Regions from separate parts of the Homo sapiens genome. Here region 1 is linked to region 2. Evidence: fine-mapped expression QTL. A gene starts in region 2. The other region holds a variant in brackets. All regions are shown on one strand. Distances are from middle to middle. Region 1 overlaps LOC101929028 (a long non-coding RNA gene). Region 2 holds the start of MSR1 (macrophage scavenger receptor 1).

The links. PIP is the estimated chance that this variant, and not a neighbour inherited with it, causes the effect.
Region 1: its variant is the best candidate, but not a certain one, in a credible set for the expression of MSR1 in monocytes (TOPMed, PIP 0.72).

What each region holds. Positions count from the first base shown.
Region 1 is chr8:16,625,577-16,630,970 of GRCh38, forward strand. All of the region lies in intron 6 of LOC101929028 (a long non-coding RNA gene), which reads right to left. Among named protein-coding and RNA genes, the nearest start is that of FGF20, 370 kb to the right of the region's middle. The variant A/G (reference allele first, on the strand shown) is at 3,094.
Region 2 is chr8:16,189,727-16,195,120 of GRCh38, forward strand. It overlaps MSR1 (macrophage scavenger receptor 1), which reads right to left and starts at 2,925. Exons shown (of 10, transcript NM_138715.3): 1 at 2,872-2,925.

The DNA of each region.
Region 1 (5,394 bases), 440 kb after region 2:
TTAACTGTCCTAATGCCCATCTCCTAATGTCCTCATAACAGCAATATTTTATTTTTACATTTTGGTTTCTCTTATATTCCCAAATATAGAGCCCACATTAAATGAAAGCTAACTAAACAACTATTTGGGAGTTCCTAGAACCTACTCTTTTCCAGCCGTCTCTCTAAGTGGACTACCCTTGTTCCTCAAATTCCACCACATTAGGTCTTTTAAAGTTAATCATGAGTGCTCTACATTAAAATGCAAAATATCCTAGAAAGAAAGATATTTTTACCTACTGGTATATAAGTGTGTATTATTTTATCAGATCCTTGGTATGGTATTGACCATACGATGGTCAATGAATTAGTATTGAATACCAGGATTTAAAGCAGGCTTCAAAAGACACTGAGGAACGTAGATCAAAGAGAGCTGGTGAAAAGTTTTAGGATACCAGGTGGGACATGGAAACTAGCAGCACCTTTAGGCCATTTGCCAAAGTGGGGAAAGGAGAAAATATTTTAAAGCAGGTGGGAGTATGCTGATGTAACTACCTTCTTCACGCTTTCATTTAGAGCCACTGTGCCCAAGAGACTGAAAATACTTGCGAAATTATTACACATATCCCAAAGTCAGGGCTATAAATTGTGATGCAACAAAAGACCTGACTTTCCCAGGCTGACCACCCAGCTTGCTTACACCTCCCTGCACAGCAACATACACAAGTTCCAATTTGAGGCCCTGCTTTAGAAATTTCTCACCTGTCCAAAAGAAATTCACCTGAATCTTCCTCTCTACTCCACCTAAAACTGATGAATCTTCCTTACTTCTGGTTGTAGAAAGAATGAATGAATTCATTTCTCAGAAAAGAAAGTTAACACTGAGATGATGGGGGAAATGTTGGCAGATATTCATATATGGACAACTTTTCCTCATCTCTAAAATCATACTATGCCTAAAGCCAATGTTCAGGTTACACCTATTATAATTATTTTGCAATATTTAGATAGATACCTAAGTCAGAGACGTCAAAGCAAGGGCTTTCCTTCGCAATTATAACCCCTCTAATCCTATCCCAAATTCCCAGCTATCTTCAAAACAAAGCCAGTGGATTTCTGTGCATAATTAACACCCAGACTAGACCATTCTTAACTGGCTCCTCACCTGTAACACAAAATTAACGTCAGGAAATACAACTACACCTATCATTAGCTGCATTCCATATTCCAAAAGAGAAAAAGATATTGCTTTGAATATATCTTCCTCTTACTTTTTCAAATATTTCCTTATTTGAATTCCTTTGGGTAAATGTCATTTCCTGTTAGGACCCCAAATTCGAATTCCTTTTTGAGATTCAAAATAACAACCAGTTGTTGGTTTCACAATAGCACTGCAAAAGACTGAAAGTTCTTATAAATCCCTGAAGGAACAAAAAACCATGAGAGTTTTTATCTACCTAACATTTTGAGTTTTGATCCTTTGGTTTTAGTTTGATATGCTAATATTTTATGCAACTAATTAATAATAACTAATTTTAATAAACTCAGAACATCTGTAGAAGGTACAATTTAGGCAACTACTAAATCATGCACCTCTTTCCTGGATTCATTCCGTAGTTTTAAAACAAATTAGTGTCCATTAAATACAACATATTTCCATTTTAAAGAAATTATTTAAATTCCACGTAATACTTTATGCATGCATGAATATTTGAACATGTAAAACAAAAACAAAAATGTTAGAACTTGTAGTTAGCACTCTGTTCAATGTTCTAGTTCAATTTCTATTTTTTTCGTCTATCCTATAATTGTTTATCTTGATTCTATTATTAAATGAGTATGCTGGGTTTATAAGATGAAATTAATTCCAATCTAGCAATTTCTAAATTCACAATTTTATAAGTCTTAGCTATGTGAAAATAAATAGAAACAGACCTTTTTGCTGATTTTATAACTAAAGAAACCTGAATTGAATAATTAGGACATAAAAATATGTGATAGTAAAGTTTTCTGAGAAATGGCCACCAAAAACAAGATTCATTTTCAAGTAAACAATGCAAAAATTCACTAAGCTGTTTGCCAAGTAGTTTTTCTCTTTCTACCTTTATACTTGCACTAGCTCTGCTAAAAGAAGCCTAATATATCTATGATTGAGGCCATGCCTTTATTGGAAATAGTGAAAATAGGATAATACATTCAATATTGGTTCACTTAAGGTAAGCCTAAACTACAGGAGATAAAGAATGCCATTAGCCAAATAGAAACTGTCTTAAAGATACAACATCTAAGAAGATGATGACAACAGCATAATATGAAACTCCAGTTAGTTAGCAACCTGCTTTGGTGATAAGACTTGAGCTCATAGGGGTATGCGTCCCAATAAAATAATTCAAAACGTGGAAGAAAAAACAGAGTGTGACATCAGAAAATTGCTGAAATTATTTCTATTTGAATACTTTTTTTCTGACCCAGAGAGGTACAATTTATCATGGAATGAATGGAACAATATGTGACAATAAGAGGAACCAATGAGAATAAATTAGGCTAGATTGCTGTGATACAGTGTTTTGCTTACTTGAATTGCCTACAAGTTTCTTTGCTAAATTCAAGTTGTTTCCTATACTGCTTAACGTGCCAAATTTGTTTTGATTCAAAATGCAGTAATGAAAAGAAAAAATTACATTGGCATTACTTTATACGGCAAAGTTATTTTTAGATATTAATATATTCCACAAACAAATTTATTGTACTCATTCTAGTTGACCTTAAAATTCTGTTATTCTGCTATTTTCCTAAAGAATATAAAGATCCAGTATGAATGTTAGTGTAAAAAAATCTTACAAAGCTCTACCTGGCTTTGATGACCCGTCATTACACAGTAAGATCCCTGCTGCTACTGGCGCTGAATTCTCAATCATGATAGAGCTGCTCCACAATCATGGAAAGATTTGTTAATTTTTGCATCCACACCCCTTCACTCTAGTTTGACCACACGCTAGGTTGCCTCTTTAATGCCAGGTTCCACCACGTGACTTGAATTAGCCAATGAAATGTAAACAGAAGTTACACGAGCCTCTTCCATGCACCAGGTGCAAATCTTGTCTCATTTTCTTCT[A/G]TCTCTTTCCTCCCCCGCACTGCCACATGTGAAGCTGCTGATTGCCTGGGTTCTGGACTGAAGATCTTATGGAGATGAGCACCAGCTGGTCTCACGCATGTAGTCTGAGCAAGAAACCATTGTTTATCTTTTTTTAAATTTTCTGTTACTGCAGCATAATTAAGCCTTAGATCATTAATAAAATGTGTATTTAGAAGACTGGAAGAAATATATTTTATCAAATATATTTATATCAAATTGTAAACAGTAACATATGCTGGATGATATGGGGTCAAGGTAATCTTTTCATTTTTTGTTTTTCTGCACTTAAGGAAAAATATCTATTTAAATATTGGAATCAAAATAATGCTTTCTATGTTCTCACTTATTTGTAGGAGCTAAAAATTAAAACAATTGAACCCATGAAGATAGAGAGTAAGTAGAAGGATGGTTACCAGAGACTGGGAAGTGTAGTGGGGGTTGGGGGAGAAAGTGGGGATGGTAAACAAGTACAAAAATAACTAGAAAGAATTATTAAGGACTAGTATTTGATAGCACAACAAGGTGACTATAGTCAATAATAATTTAATTGTACATTTTAAAATAACTAAAAGAATATAATTGTATTGGTTGTAACAAAAGATAAATGCTTGAGGGGATAGACACTGCATTTATCCTGATGTGATTATTCTGCATTACATGCTGGTATCAAAGTATCTCACGTACCCCATAAATATATAAAACAATGTACCCACTAAAATTAAAAATTAAAAAAATACTTTATAAATACTATAAAATCAAATGCTTTGAATATATTCATATGCTGTTCTAATTCCATCCATTGCAGGCAGTTAAAAATTTACTGTGATAAATAATGTATCCTAATCTCCCTAAATGGGCAGATAGAATTACATACTTTTTACCCTTTAACCCTGGAAGAATAGACGTGTCTATTGGCAATTTAGAGGACAAAGAAAGAAGTGTGCAGAAACCCTGAAGCCCTTACTGTCCAATTCTTTATGGCACCAAGAGATGTTCTCACAGTCTGCATCAAGATGGCTGGTGGCTGGTAATAAGTTTTATGCTAGTAAGTACTTCCGTGAAATTAGTTATTTGCTGGATCCAAAACTTCATTAGCTTATGTTAAGGGAGAATTATCTTCAAAGCACCCTCTCAACTAGCAGGGTATGCCCCATAGACGTTTGGGCCAGAAAGCTCATGGCTGAGTCTATCCACCCCATTCCCTTCCCCTACATTTGCATTTCTGTTCCTTAAACTGCTTCCTGCTTCCATTCATGGAAGTAAGACCCTCCTCTTCCCTCTAAAGATCACACCAGCAGAAACACCTCTCCCCTAAGTGGCTTTAGTTTTCCACTCCTAAACTTATTTTATGTTGTATTGTATTTGTTCGTCTTCATTAGTAAAAGTTAGAAACTTAGAAACAAGAAAGCAAAAAGTATTTAGTGATTTTATAAGAATATATGCCATGTCTCAAGGAGTGATATAAACTTAAATATTTTAAATGTTTACATTCTGCTAATTTCTCTCTTTATTGGAGCAAAATAATCGTAACGCTATTCTTTAAGAATACCCATAAATTCACCTCAAGAAAAACGGAAGATTTAAGCAAAGATTTAAATAATGTTGTTTACTAAAATATTATTTGTAAAAGTTAACGATAAAGAGAAAAATTAACAAACATTGATTACACTGTTATTTCCAAAGAAGTAAATATGTTGCAGTAATTAAAACTTGTGATTTTTCAAAGACGTTTTGAGAAAATAAGAAATGCTTATGATATAATGTTAAATGGAAAATAATTTAAAAGTATGAATATATAACATAAATATTCCCATTTTAATTATTTCAATTACTTTAAAGAAAAAATGGAAAGAAGCAACAAGCATCTCAGGATCACATAATTAGGAATTACATGATAGTATTGTTGCCCCAAAATACATAGGTTTTGTGTTTTTTTTGTGTGCTTTCAAATTTTTCAACAAAATAAGGCTTCACTTTCACAACTGTAGGAAAACAAATTAAAGGAATCTCTACATGTACATAAATTCCAGTTTTCAGTAATCCAAACGCTATTCAACCAACTTCTTAGTTGAATTAATAATACAGCAACAATACAGTATCCATTTTAAAATCCCCATAGTAAAAAAAAAAACAAAACTATTTCTCTAACATTTTGAGGAATAAAGTTGGCTACTATGCTCTGCTATGTAGCTGAGAAGACAAACAAACAAACAAAATCCTAAAGCTCTTTCCTGGCAGCACTGCAAAATCCGAACATTAATGAGGGGAAAGTGGCATATA
Region 2 (5,394 bases):
TTTTATATATATATAAAATCTTATTTTATATATATTTTATATATATATAAAATCTTATTTATACAGCCATTTTTCTAAATAAAAAATACAGCCATTTTTCTAAAATATAATTTTTTCTTTTAAACTTTTTTTCCTTTTCCCAGGGGGCAATGCTTCACTGATATAAATAATGATGTTATAAATATTTCCTTTTTTTTTTTTTTTTTGAGATTGAGTCTTGCTTTGTCACCCAGGCTGGAGTGTAATGGTGTGATCTCAGCTGACTGAAACCTCTGCCTCCTGGGTTCACGTGATTCTCCTGCCTCAGCTTCCCGAGTAGCGGGATTATAGGCGTTTGCCACCATGCCCAGCTCATTTTTGTATTTTTCACCGCGTTCATCCAGCTGGTCTCAAACTCCTGACCTCAGGTGATCCACCCTCCTTGGCCTCCCAAAGTGCTGGGATTACAGATGTGAGCCACTGCCCCGGCCATTATTTTCATAATTTAGCTTTCTTCTTTTAAAATGTTTCTTTAGGATAATTCATCATATGTGAAACTAAAAAGTGAAAGGAAAACTATTTTGAACTTCTTGGGCTCTACTGTCTTAGTGATCTTTAAAAAGATAACATAAATTTATAAATATTCCAGACTTATATGTGAATATGGCAGTTTCAAGCAAAATTCACTACCATTGAATAATAAAGCTTATTTTAGAATCATTTAGATTTTGATAAGAGTTAAATAATACCTAAAAGTGGTTTTCATTTTTATTTTTTATTATTAATGTAAGAGAGAGATTTCACTGTAATTGTCTGTCATACATTGTTCTTCTTGGGTTATTATCTATTCATATTCACTGCTTATACATCCCCACAGGTTTCTTTTACCTAAGCATGTGAATCAGCTCTTTATGTTTAATACATATTTACCATCTGTCTTTTCATACTTGACATGCATTCGTTTTCCTAAGATTTTTCCCTATTTAGTTTTTTTATCATATTCTTTCTTTTTTCTTTCTTTCTTTTTGTTTTTGAGATGGAGTTTCGCTCTTGTTGCCCAGGCTGGAGTGCAATGGCGTGATCTTGGCTCACCACAACCTCCGCCTCCTGGGTTCATGTGATTCTCCTGCCTCAGACTCCGGAGTAACTGGGATTACAAGCATGCACCACCACGCCCGGCTAATTTTGTATTTTCAGTAGAGACAGGGTTTCTCCATGTTGGTCAGGCTGGTCTTGAACTCCCGACCTCAGGTAATCCACCTGCCTTGGCCTCCCAAAGTGCTGGGATTACAGGCGTGAGCCACCGTGCCCGGCCCATCATATTCTTAAGGCCAACTTTATCTTCAACATTTGGAATAAATAATAAGCTTGTGATCCTCCTTATTATATAAAATAATAACTTTGATTTTTGTAACAGCAGTTGAATGTGTATATAAAATGAAAATTAAATTAAGATTATTTGTGAAACTAACAGCTTTATGCTTAAGGAACCCGTCTGTAAGACAGATTTTAGTAAGAAATGGAAATATTTATATTGTGCCTGATGTCACTGATATTCATCCTTGGTAGCAAAGAAGAAAGAGCATCAACTTTTGAATCTGAAATCTAGATTTGAGTATTGACTGTGACATCATTTAGCTGTGTGATCTTAGGCAAATATTTTAACTTATTTGAATTGAACTTTCTTTAGATATGTAAAATATGATCACAATATAAATTTAAAGAATTATTGCGAGAATTAAAAATAATTTTTGTAAATTGCCTGGTACACAGAAAACCATCAATATATGAATCCCTGTTATTTTAAAATATCACTTTTTTTTTAAATATGAGCTTTTCTTATTTTGTTCTCACGGAATCTTCATGAGGTACAAGTAGTATTTTCTCCATTTTACAGGTTAGGGAACTGAAATGTGTAAGTAACTAGTCAAGTTACTCAACTAGGGAGCAGGGGAGCTGGAATTTGAACACAGGCAGTCTACTCCCAGAAGATTAGCTCTTACCCACTGCATAAAACGGCTAATCACTGCATAAAACATCTGTAATCTCAGTTCTATGGTTTTTCTATAAGTATTTTTACCTGGTCAGTGCAAATGCCAACCTCCCATTATATGCTGTGTGAATCTTACTTAGTCTTCAAGATTAATCAGATTTCTAGCATCTCCATGAAGATTTATTTTTGATAGACTTTTTTCACATAGAAGTAATTTTGGCCTCGCCTATATTTTCATAGTAATTATCTATAGCATTTTCATACTACTTAAGGTGCTAGTAATTATCTATAGTACTTTCATACTACTTAAGGTGCTCAAATTACATTATGCCTATTTGGGGATATGTTTTAAATCATAAGATTCCGGAGCACAAAAAGAACTATATCTTATTTTTTGTATCCTTTCCCCACATCTAGTTCAATGAAGTGCATATAGTAGATACCCAGCCAATATTTGCTATATAATCAAGGGAAGATAATAAAAGGCATTAGATTAAAGCCAAAAATGTTCCATGAAAAGTTATGAAAGGAGAATAGGTGAAATATGTCAAATTATACTTTGAATAAAACCAGTATTTTAAACAAAATATGCTTAATTATATGAAAAAACCCCATTGCTGGTTCAAACTACAAAGCATTTAGTGTATTTCATATGTACTTGTGAACATATATGTTTTTCACTCATGGAAAATTTAGCAGAAATCCCTATTTTTTGATTATCGAAAAAAACCAAACCAAATTATTGCTGATACAATAAAGCATTCATCTCATCATACACACACAGACACACAAATATATATCACACACATGCATGCACACACACACACAGAGTACACACATAACAATCAATAGAAACAATTCTGGAAAAAACATTAAAATAAGCCTTTTTTTTTCTTTACCTTTCGTCCTAAAGAAAGCAGCACTGATTTATCCACTTCTCTCTCTTTACAATTGAAACCTAAAATCTTTATCTCATAGTATTTCAGCATCTGGTACATGAAGAAAGGAAATGACACATTCCTGCGTTGAAAATCTTTCTTAATGTGTTTCAATAGCACTCTCATCAATGCACAGGTTTGCAAAATCTAAATTTGTCAGATAACTCACTCTTCACCCCATTTAGGCCGCTTTAAAAAAAAAAGAGAAGTGAAAAGGAAAAGAAACAAGGGTTGTTGAAACAAGCACATAATTTACAGCAGATTGAGCTTTCCTTTTTTTTTGGAGATGGAGTCTCGCTGTCTCACCAGGGTGGAGTGCAGTGGTGTGATCTCCGCTCACTGCAACCTCTGCCTCCCAGGTTCTACAGGCGTGTGCCATCACACCCGGCTAATTTTTTGTATTTTAGTAGAGACAGGGTTTCGCCATGTTGGTCAGGATGGTCTTGATCCCCTGACCTCATGGTCCGCTCGCCTTGGCCTCCCAAAGTGCTGGGATTACAGGCGCGAGCCACCGTGCCCAGCCTGATCTTTCCTTTTTTATAAGTAATCTATGCCTTCTAAAACATACATTAATTCTCATGATCTCCTCTTTCACGTTACTATAATGTTGAGTAAAGACTCCATGTTTGGCTAGGTGTGGTGGCTCATGCCTGTAATCCCAGCACTTTGGGTGGCCGAGGTGGCTGGATCACTTGAGGTCAGGAGCTCTAGAACAGCCTGGCCAACATGGTGAAACTAGTCTCTACTAAAAATACAAAAATTGGCCAGGCATGCGCCTGTAATCCCAGCTACTCGGGAGGCTGAGGCTGAAGAATTGCTTGAACCCAGGAGGCGGAGGTTGCAGTGAGCAGAGATCGCACCACTGCACTCCAGCCTGGGCAACAGAGTGAGACTCCACCTCAAAAAAAAAAAAAAAAAAAAAGACTCCATGTTTAGAGATTCGAGTTTTTTTCTTAGATCCTTTTTCCTGTACCTTTATCCCTAGCCTCAAACACAAAACACGTGAAGAAAGAATATGATGCCTTAGTAAGAACAAGTAATAACCTAAAAGCACTCACTCCTGTTCTCTCTATAATGATAATAGCATTAATTTTTAGAGCACCAGACAAGTTGTTTATTTCCAGTAGTATAGTAGAGGGAAGGAATCTCAGGCATGGATCAGATGAAAGGGATGTTCTTTCCCTTCTGCCATCCATCAGGGTTTTATACAATTCAACTCCGTTATTTACTCACATTCAAGAAGTTCAAGTATGACTCACATGAAAACGTTCAACATTACATTAATGAGCTAAGTTTTACAACTGATATTTCTGGGAGAAGGTGTTTAGCTTATATTCCGTAGTCACTCTTTTGTGCCCAAACAGGAGAAATCATGCTTCCTACCAAAAGATGCCCCAAATTGCTGTGCCCATGGGCACCATCCTTCAGAAGACAATACGTCTGCAAGAAAGTATGCGGGAACAGCGCACGGTCTTTGAGAGATGCAAAGTAACAGTATTATTCAGTTATTCTTAAGGTAACCACTAAAAGGCTAATAGTAGTAGTAGGACAGGCATCAAAGTAAGCTGCATAATTTCTAACCAGGCAGCTTGAAGACTAGAAGTACGATCACAATTTGATCCAGCCTGGACCAGCATAAATGCTATTGGCTATTCCTCATCAAATTCTTACTGACACAGAACTGGAGACTACAAAACTCACACTCTTTCCTTTACAATTATTTGTACATGCTTCTTATTTTAAAATATAGTCCTTTTAGGTTTTTTTGTACAAAATCTGAAGTTTAAAATTTAGATATCCCTGACAATGCTACGTGATTAGAAAAGTCAGACTCTGGGAATAACAAGACACCAATCTCCCAAAATTCTATCCTAATGAGGTTTCTTTCTGTCAGTGTGCTTTATTTTCAGTATGTCTCTGTAATACTGTTTGGTGTATATCCACAGTGCTGACCACTTCCCTATGTGATGATTTCCACACTCTTCAGCCAATCTAATTTTTCATTAAAAAACTTCCCTTTTTATATGTCTAAATAGGTACTATATAATTTTATATAGTTTTATATATAATAATTATAGATTATGTAACATAATATTATCTATTAGGTCTTACTATATGTAAAAACACCTTTAGCAGGGAACCATGTTAAAAATGTTCAGTTCAAGCCAATGATTAATTGAGAACAGAGGTAATATGTAAAGGGTTGGGATTTTGCATTCATTCCTTCATTTGACTTCACAGCAACTTTGTCATATCACTTCCCTAATTGAGAAATTAATGTTTAGAGATGGTAAGTAAATTTCTCGAGATCAGAGTTATGAGTCATCAGAGCTGGTATTTAAACCCAGTCTGATTACAAAATTTGGCAAAATATAGTTTTTTCTTAAGCTGAAGTAGGTATATGTATTATTAGGGGACTATAATATCTCCATCAAAAACAGTATACAGAAAACAAGCCACAAATATGGGCAAATTCCAGATCAT